Linked DNA regions of Homo sapiens. The protein of the gene in region 2 purifies or fractionates together with the protein of the main gene of each other region. This does not show direct contact. Each region holds a gene or a part of one and is shown on either strand. Other genes may lie near its edges.

What was found. The genes of interacting proteins can lie anywhere in the genome.
Region 1: the proteins of CIMAP2 (region 2) and HERC1 purify together in Homo sapiens (affinity purification with mass spectrometry; one large-scale study listed by BioGRID and IntAct). This does not show direct contact.

Annotation. Positions count from the first base shown.
Region 1 is NC_000015.10:63,655,060-63,660,298, reverse strand, and holds part of HERC1 (probable E3 ubiquitin-protein ligase HERC1), read left to right. Parts: intron 1-362; coding exon 363-563; intron 564-1,565; coding exon of another isoform or gene 1,566-1,580; coding exon 1,581-1,755; intron 1,756-3,940; coding exon 3,941-4,211; intron 4,212-4,343; coding exon 4,344-4,557; intron 4,558-5,239. UniProt on the Homo sapiens protein: Involved in membrane trafficking via some guanine nucleotide exchange factor (GEF) activity and its ability to bind clathrin. Acts as a GEF for Arf and Rab, by exchanging bound GDP for free GTP.
Region 2 is NC_000001.11:54,804,862-54,808,862, forward strand, and holds the start of CIMAP2 (ciliary microtubule-associated protein 2), read left to right. Parts: upstream 1-1,201; 5' UTR 1,202-1,255; coding exon 1,256-1,359; intron 1,360-2,134; coding exon 2,135-2,222; intron 2,223-2,664; coding exon 2,665-2,829; intron 2,830-3,027; coding exon 3,028-3,150; intron 3,151-4,001.

The sequences.
Region 1 (5,239 bases), on a different chromosome or scaffold from region 2:
GTCCAGGCTGTAGTGCTGTGGCGTGATCTCAGCTTACTGCAGCCACGGCCTCCCAGGTTCAAGCAATTCTCCGGTCTCAGCCTCCTGAGTAGCTGGGATTACAGGCACACACCACCATGCCTGGCTAATTTTTGTATTTTTTGGTGGGGATGGGGTTTCATCATGTTGGCCAGGCTGGTCTCAAATTCCTGACCTCATGTGATCCAGTCGCCTCGGCCTCCCAGAGTGTTGGGATTACAGGCGTGAGCCATCGCATCTGGCTGCTCATCTGCATTTTAGATGTATTTTCAGAACAACCATTGCCAGCAGATTTATGTAATATTTAAATTCACATACTATACATTTATTTATTTAAATTCCAGAAGACTGGGACATGTTGGATGTTGATGAAGATGAAAAGCTAACTGGTGAAGAAGAATTTGAATTACTTGCTGGACCGCTTGGTTTAAATGACCGGCGCATTGTACCAGAACCAGTTCAGTTCCCTGACAGCGATCCACTGGGAGCATCAGTAGCAATGGTCACAGCCACCAACAGTATGGAAGAGACTCTGATGCAAATAGGTAAACTGAAATCCTGATTTGCATTGATTTTATAGCATCTACTATAATTTGTTTCTTAGATAGGTAAATAATAATAATAAAGTAAAAGTAAATAAGACTAATGGTTCAACATTATCTCACCCCAACAAGTCTCTTTAGCCAGTTGTTTTAACATTTTGAAGGTATAATGTGGTATTAAGTTTTGGCTGGGCTTGGTGGCTTATGCTCGTAATCCCAGCACTTTGGAAGGCTGAAGAAAGAAGGTCGCTTGAGGCCAGCAGTTCAAGACCAGGCTGGGCAACATGGTGAGACCCATTTCTATTAAAAAAATGAAGAAAAGTAGCTGGGTGGGTGGTGTGCACCTTTAGTCCCAGCTACTCAGGAGGCTGAGGCAGAAAAATTGTTTAATCCCAGGAGTTTGAGGTTATGGTGAGTGATGATTGAGCCACTGCACTCCAGCCTGGGTGACAGAACCAGACCCTGTCTCAAGAGGAAAAAATAAATGTTTTGATTTTTTTTTGTCTTTCATGATACCGAAGCAATAAAAAGATTTATAGAACTTGTTATTTAAAAAAAAACTTGGTGTTAAGAGAATCCTGTAACCAACTTAAAATTATTGTGCAGTCTTCTTTTTATTTGGGTGAGAGGGTGTGGTAAATTTTTGGTATAGGGAATACAAAATAAAGAATTGGGCAGTATTGGTAATTCAGTCCTTTATAAATTCTCAAAGCACTTATAATCAGTAGATGTGATACATGGGCAAAATGAACAAAACAGAAAATACTTACTGGTAAATTAAGTATAAATACTCCTATGGTAAATACATTGTTAACATAGAAATATCTAAGTTAGAAATATCCAAGTTCAAACTTAGAAATATGTGAGTTTCTCCTAAGAAATTTTCTGTATAACCAAGTTCCAGATGAGCAAAAGACATTGGTTTGTTATGGAACCTCTGTAGAATAGGAAATGTTTTTAGTAGTTCAGATGTATTTTTTTCTTACCTTGTTGAGAACAAAACAGAATTATGTTTTTCAGGTTGCCATGGCTCCGTAGAAAAGAGCTCCTCTGGGAGAATAACGTTAGGAGAGCAGGCAGCTGCCCTAGCAAACCCTCATGACCGTGTGGTGGCTTTAAGGAGAGTGACTGCTGCTGCTCAGGTTCTTCTGGCCAGAACCATGGTCATGAGAGCGCTGTCTCTTCTCTCAGTCAGGTAAGTGTTATTTTATGTCACATGATGCTAAGTTAACTTCTAGTGTACATTAGCTGGAAGTCTGGTGGTGTTTGGGAGGGTGAGATAGAATTTTAGAAGCTTGAATATGTACTGTTGAATGAAAGATGTTAGACGTAGTCATTGTTATTCACTCAATCGGTCATTCAGTTAATACTTGGCTCTTTTTAGGTAGAAAATAATGCCATTATCACAACTGAGTAAACTGCATACATTTTATTTTGTTGCTTGAAATGGGAAACTAAGGCTGTTGATCCCAATGGTGCTGGATCAAAAACTAAAGGTCAAAATGTATTGACCGTCTGTGTAGCTAAGTCAGCCTGCAGATGCCATCATGGGGATCCTTGCCGTGTTGATACTGTGGAGTGTAATGTAAAAAGGGGATGAGAACCAGAAATACCTAAAAGACAGCTGTTTAAGAAGTGATTAAGCAGGAGTATTTAATGGCAAATCAGTGAAGGCAGAAAGATCCTGAAAGAAAAACAAAATTTCCATAAGACTGTGTGCTATTGGCTCAAGGATAGGCAAATAGGATAGTACAGAAGAGAGTTAAGAAACTGACCCATACATATAAATAAACACTTGATTTATGGTTTGATTTATGACAGTGGTTCACACTGTAGAGCAATAGAGAAAGGCTGTTTTTTTCAGTAACTGAAGCAGGGTCTGATGGTTTATCCACATAGAAAAAAAAAGCCTTGGTCCCAACCTCAAACTATATAAAGCAAATAGTTATAAAGTGGCTATTAGATCTAAATATAAAAGAAAAATAAATCAATAAAGTTTATTGAAGGTAACATAGAAGAATTGCTTCTTGGTCTTGGGACAAGCAAAAATTCCTCAAGCAAGTCACAAAAGGAATCTGCCATAAAAGATTGATAAATTGGAATACAATAAAATAGAAAACCTCTGTTTAGCAAAAGTGATTTGAAAAGTAAGAAAGTAAAAAAGCAAGCCATAGAATGGGAGAAGATATTAGTAATGCATCTAACCAACAGAATGTGTAAAGAATTCCTATAAATTAACAAGAAAAAGACAACCCAGAAGAAAGTGGACAAAACACATTAAGAAGTGTTTCACAAAAGAGGATCTCCAAATGGCCAATAAACATGAAAAGATGTTCAACCTCAGTGAGTCTTCAGAGAAATGAAAATTAAAATCCAGTGTGATTGGGAGGCCAAGACGGGAAGAACCCTTGAGCCAGGAGTTTGAGACCAGCCTGGGAAACATAGTGAGACCCTGTCTCAAAAAAAAAAAAAAAAAAACCTAAGACAAAAAACCCACCAATGAGATACCATTGCACACCCACAAGAATGGCAAACATTTAAAACACTAGAGAGAAAAAAGTGACTGAAACAGCTAAAACTCCCATACATTGTTAGTGAGAAAATGAATTGGTATAACCACTTTGGAAAACTGTTCGATAGTATCAACTAAAACTGAACAGGAACATACTCTGTGACCCAGAGATCCACTTCTGGGTATATATCCAACAGAAATACTTAAATATGTGCCCCCTAAAGACCAATCATTCATGGTAGTACTATTCATAATAGCCCCATGTTGGAAACCGCCTGATTGTCATCTGTAGGGATAAATGAACTGTGGCAGATTTCATGTATATGTCAATGAAAACGAACTGCTCAATGCTACAAGATTTGGATGAATCTTACAAACATAATATTGAAGAAGCCAGACACAAAAGAGTACATATATTAATTATTCAATTGATGTAAAGTTCAAAAACAGGCAAAACTAACTTGTAGCTTTAGAAGTCAGGATAGTGGTTACTTCTGAGAGCATCGTGACTGAGAAAAGCCCAAAGCAGGTTTCTGAGGTACTGGCAATGTTCTGTTTCTTGATCTGGAGGGCGGTGACATGGGTTTGTTCAGCTTATGAAAATTTATGCTTTGTGAACATTCCTGTTTTACTTTGTCAGTTCAATTGTACTTCAAGTATATGCCAATACTTATTAAAAGGAGAGAACGTTTAGATGCCAGTTTCCAGCTTGATACCTTTGGCAACTCTTAGGACATGTATGGCTAATGATAGTGCAGCTTACATTTTATTATGGTTGTTGATGCTGTGAATGTTATGTGGGACTGCAAATGGTCCCTTAAGAAATCCATTTTCTTTATCCATCTGAGATGTTTTTCTTTACTGGCAGTGGTTCCAGTTGTAGCCTGGCTGCTGGTCTTGAGTCTCTGGGGCTAACAGATATCCGAACGCTAGTTCGATTAATGTGCTTGGCAGCAGCAGGGAGAGCTGGCCTCTCCACCAGCCCTTCTGCCATGGCTAGCACCTCAGAACGATCACGAGGTGGGCATAGCAAGGCTAACAAGCCTATCTCTTGCCTGGCCTATTTGAGCACAGCAGTGGGATGTCTGGCATCAAATGCTCCTAGTGCTGCCAAACTGCTTGTACAGTTGTGTACACAGGTAAGCTACTTTCAGTACTTTTCCCCGTTACATTGATTATTTCTGACTGATTCTTGAGCCTTTTGAAATGAAATATTTTTGTTCCAAAATTACATGTAAAAATTAAGTCTGTTTTTCCAATTGCTTCTTCAGAACTTGATTTCTGCTGCAACAGGTGTAAATCTAACCACAGTTGATGACTCAATTCAGCGAAAGTTTCTACCCAGCTTTCTCCGAGGAATTGCTGAAGAGAACAAGCTTGTGACCTCCCCAAACTTTGTTGTAACACAGGCCCTTGTGGCATTGCTAGCAGACAAAGGGGCCAAACTAAGACCTAACTATGATAAGTCAGAAGTTGAAAAGAAAGGTAAGTTTCATACTACTGAAACATACAGTCTTCTAATCGACTTCTTATTTTTAAATAATGTTTTTACATTGTTAGTATATGATAAATTATATGACGTGAGTTTCTTAAGTTTAGAACATAAAAGAAGTGCATAGATACTTTTTCACTGTGTATGGAAACAAAGATTAGAAAATGTACCATATTAGTTTAGTTATAGATTATGATTTGAGTTAACCATAGATAATAATCCTGGTAGGTTTCTTTAATAAAATTTAGATGAAGGCAGTGTTATTTTTCTCTTTGTTTTAAGATTATAACACTTTGAAGGGACTACTTATCAGTACTGCCTTTCTCTTCATCAGGACCATTTAGCCAAGAGATAACTGGCTTTTGTTTTTTGTTTCTTTTTGAGACAGAGTCTCACTCTGTCACCCAAACTGGAGTGCAGTGGCACAATCTTGGCTCAGTACAACCTCCACCTCCTGGGCTCAAGTGATTCTCCTGCCTCAGCCTCCCAAGTAGCTGGGATTACAGGCACATGCCACCATGCCCGGCTAATTTTTCTATTTTTAGTAGAGATGGGGTTTCGCCATGTTGGCCAGGCTTGTCTTGAACTCCTGGCCTCGTGTGATCCTCCCACCTCGACCTCCCAAAGTCCTCAGATTACAGGCATGAGCCACCACACCCAGCCGATACTGGCTTT
Region 2 (4,001 bases):
AAGTGACTTGCTCAAGATCCCACGGCTGGGAAGGGCAGAGTCTGCTTAGATGACCCAGGCTTTCCGTTCTGTGCATGTTCCTGAGGCCTGCCACCTCTGACCATCAGCTCAGTGGTGCAGCGCAGACGCTCTGCCAGCAGTGGCCCGCCAGGCCTGGAGCCTAAGGGTCCAGCTCTCAGCTGTGCTGGGGAGCCACACTTCTTATCTAACTACCAGCTTGGGATGTCAGAAGGGCACTGGGTGGGGCCTGGCAGAAGACCCACTGTGCCTCTGGTCCAGGTTCACCATGGGCTGGAAGCAGGGCCTCTGGTACAACCTACGCCTCTCTGGCTTCAATCCTGTCACCATGGAATGGGGTATGGATCTCTGCCCCACCTTTGCCTAAGATCCTTGGGAAGATCACAAGCCATCGTGAGAGAAATTAGACAATCTCAGAGCATGGCTGTGGAGCACTGGTTGGGGGGTAAAGAAGGAGGGAAGAGAGAGCTGACTATGCCCTGTGTGGGGTACATACCCTCAATTCCTTTCTTTACTTGGAAAGTCATCCATATGCTTCAATGTTGAGTTTGGAATTCTCCTCCAAGAAGTCTTCCCTGACCTACCTACCCACAGGCTGGGTCAGAGGCCTCCCTCTCTCATAGACCTGACCATAGTATGTGGTCATTGCTTCCCCCATTATTTTCAGGGCAGGGACCACATCTGGGTCCCAGTCATTCTGCACTGTGTCTGCCCAGAGTGGGTGCCAGGGACGTCTAGGGGCCGGTTGAGTCCTGACTACCCCTGCAGCTTTGCCCAGCCCTCCACCCTCTGGCTCTCCTTGCCCTTTCCCCCTTACTTCTGCTCCCCTGACTCCCAAAGTGGAGAAGGAGCTGGGATGTCATTTGCCCAAGGCGGCCCTCTCTGTGGGCCTCAGTTTCCCATCAGCACAAGGTGAACTTTAAAAGGTTCTTTCTGAGCCTAGGCAGGCTCCATGCAGGGCTCTGGGATAAAGCCAGAAATCAGAAACACTTCCTCAACAAATGACTGTAAGACCCCACCCAATGGCATCCATATTAAATACAAGAAGGGCCATTACATCTGCAGGGGCCAGGGAAGGACCCTGAAAATGTGCACGGACAAGTTAAAAATCAGCGGGCTACGTGCGCACGCCGGTGGGGGCGCCACGTGGGCGAGGGCGAGGCCCACAGCTCCGGGGCGCATCACAAGGCCCGGGTTGCCGTGGCAGCAGCGGAGGCGGGCAGCGCGCAGGCCTGCCATGAGGGAAAGCCAGGATGCCGCCGGAGCTCATGGCTGGAACCGCGTCGGCTCCACGGCCACCAAGTGGTTCACCGGGGCGCCCTTCGGGGTGCAGAGCCACAGGTGGGGCCCGTTTGCGTCCTGGGCTCACGCCCACGGTCCAAAGCAGCTGCTGCCCACCCCGAAGCCACGCTTGGCCTCGGGAGAGAGGGTGTCCACCTACACACAGGGCTGAGCCTGGCGGGGAGGGGAACCAGAGGAGTGGGGGCCGGCAGTGAGGAGGGGCTGGGCTTTCTCTCCCCCTCTTGCTTAGTGCTCTTCCCTGCCCAGGGTTCTTTTACCATCTAAGTGAGTTCTTTAAAACCATTTCAAGAGCACTTACTATGTGCCAGGTTTAGAGAGGTCACATGGCCTGGTCCATAGTAGGCCACTCAGCTCAAAAGTGGTGGGTGGGATTTCAGCCCAGGTGTCTGTCTTCCATTCACTCATATTCCACTCTGTCTCTTTCTCTCTCTCACCTACTGTGTTCCAGGCACAGTTCTAGGATCTGGGGCTACAGCAGTGAACACAACAGCAAACCCCTGTACTCATGGAGTTTGCTCTCTTCTGTGGGGGGTGGGGGTGGGTAATAAACAAAAGTATGTACATCTGTAAAACCTTGGGTATTGGTAAGGACTGTGGAGAAAAATGAAGCTGGGAGGAGGAGCTGGTGGGTGGGGTGGGGTGGGGTGGGAGCAGCCTGGAACATTCAAAGCCACTGCAACTCCACTACTTTTCTTTCATGAGCTTGCTCCAAAGTCACCTTCCCGGGCAGCCAACTCCCCCATGCTCCAGAACTGCCCACGCCAGGGCCAGGTGCCAGGCACAGGGCTCTCACTGGGCCACCGTCCCTCCCTAGGTTTGACATCTCTGCTGTTTATCCCAACTGGAAGAAGTTCAGCACCTTCACTGAGGCCCCATACTCCACGCGTTATTCTACCCAAGTGGTGAGTTTGCACAGCTTCCCTGACTCCTCCCACAGGGTCTGGCCACTGCCCCTTCGAGCTGCCTGCTGTGGTGGATGAGCTGAGCTGTAGAAGGGGCGTACTTTCTACCTTCTTCCAGCACAGAGCTGGACCCACAGTGGGGGCTTCCAGTGTGTTTGATAAACGAGGGACTGCAGCACTCCCAGCTTGTGCACTGACTACCTCTGGGCTCTTGAAGGAGTTGTTATACCTTCCTGCAGTGTGAGGGGGCAGTGATAGAGGATGTCACGATTGCACCTTGAGTGCCAAGCCTGTTGGTGCCAGCCTTAGTGCTGAGGGTGGGAGCCACAGGGGGATTGCCTACTCCCTTCCTCCGGGTCAGGGTGGTGGCTTGGTGAGGGCCTGCTCTGTGGGTAGACTGGGCGGGCGTGGCTGTCACAGCTCTGACCACACTCTGACTCAGTCCCACATAGGCCCTGGGACTTACAGCTCCAAAGAGACCTGCTTCAGCAAGAAGAAGCTGATGAAGGAGGTGGACACAGGCTGGGCCAAGGCCCAGGAAGCCACGCGGCTGACCCAGCTACCCCACTTCCAGTACCAGGCCATCATGAAAGAGAAGCGGCTGAAGGTGAGGCCTCTGGGGCCATGCCTCTCCCTCTCTGGTGCCAGGTCTTCCTGTCCATTGCAGCTGCTCTGTGTGGCCTTCAGTGTCCTCCCAAGGCCAGATGGAGATTATCCTTTAAGGAACACCATCGTGCCTTGGGCTTCTTCCTGCGTGGATTTTCCCAAGTTTAAGGCTTTCATTTTCTCTCTTCTCTTGGCACAGGAGCAAAAGCTGGGCCCCGGCTCCTACAACCTCAAAGACTTCTTAGAACAGCTGCGGGAGAAACCATGTAGCACCCGGGGGCTGCTCAGCTCTGGGGAGGTTCGCTTCCGAGGACTCACTGGGGTAGGTGTTCTCATGTCTGGAGTCCCAAGCAGAGAGCCTGGCATACACTGGGTGCCCAACAAATTCATTCACTTACATATCCATCCAGCCAGCCAGCCAGGAATAAGGATTAAGCACCTCCTAAGTGGCATACACTGTCCTAGACCTTGGGGATCTAGCAGTGACGAAGACAATGTCCCTGCTCTCATGAAGTAGATGTCCTAGTGGTAGAAATAGTAGTACAAAGAAGGAAATATAATACGTATATAAGCAGGGCTATGAACACAAATTAGACAGGCAAGGGACAGGCAGTGATGGTGGTGCAATTGATAGAGAGTAGTCAGGGCTCTGGGAGGAGGTGACATTTGAGGAAACCTACAGGTCGTGAGCAACGGAGACTTGCAATGTCTGGTACAGCATTCCAGGCATTGGAAGCAGCAGAGGCTAAGGCCTTGAGGTGGGAACATGCTTGTCAAATCAGACCGGCAGGCAGGAGGCCAGTGTGGCCAGAGGGCACTGGCCGAGGGTGAGAGGAGGCGAGCGAGAGGGCAGAGGGGTGAAGGGCTGGGTCATGAGGGCCCTGCAGCCAAGGTGGGGCCTTGGTGTTATTCCAGGTGCTGCCGGGGGAGGGCAGTGGAGGGCTTTGACAGGAAGAGGACCTAACTTACCTTTTTAGAGGAAGACCTTCGAGAGGGCCAGGGTTGGGAGGAGGCGATGGTGCTGAGAGGTGGGGGTGGCAGCGCCAGGGGATGATGATCTCATCAGGAGGACACTGAGTGAGGCTGACACTCAGTAAGGGCACGAGGGAGAAAGCAGGAGTCACCCCCTACCAAGGGAGCCAGCACAGCAGTTTGTTGGCCTGGACCTCTCTG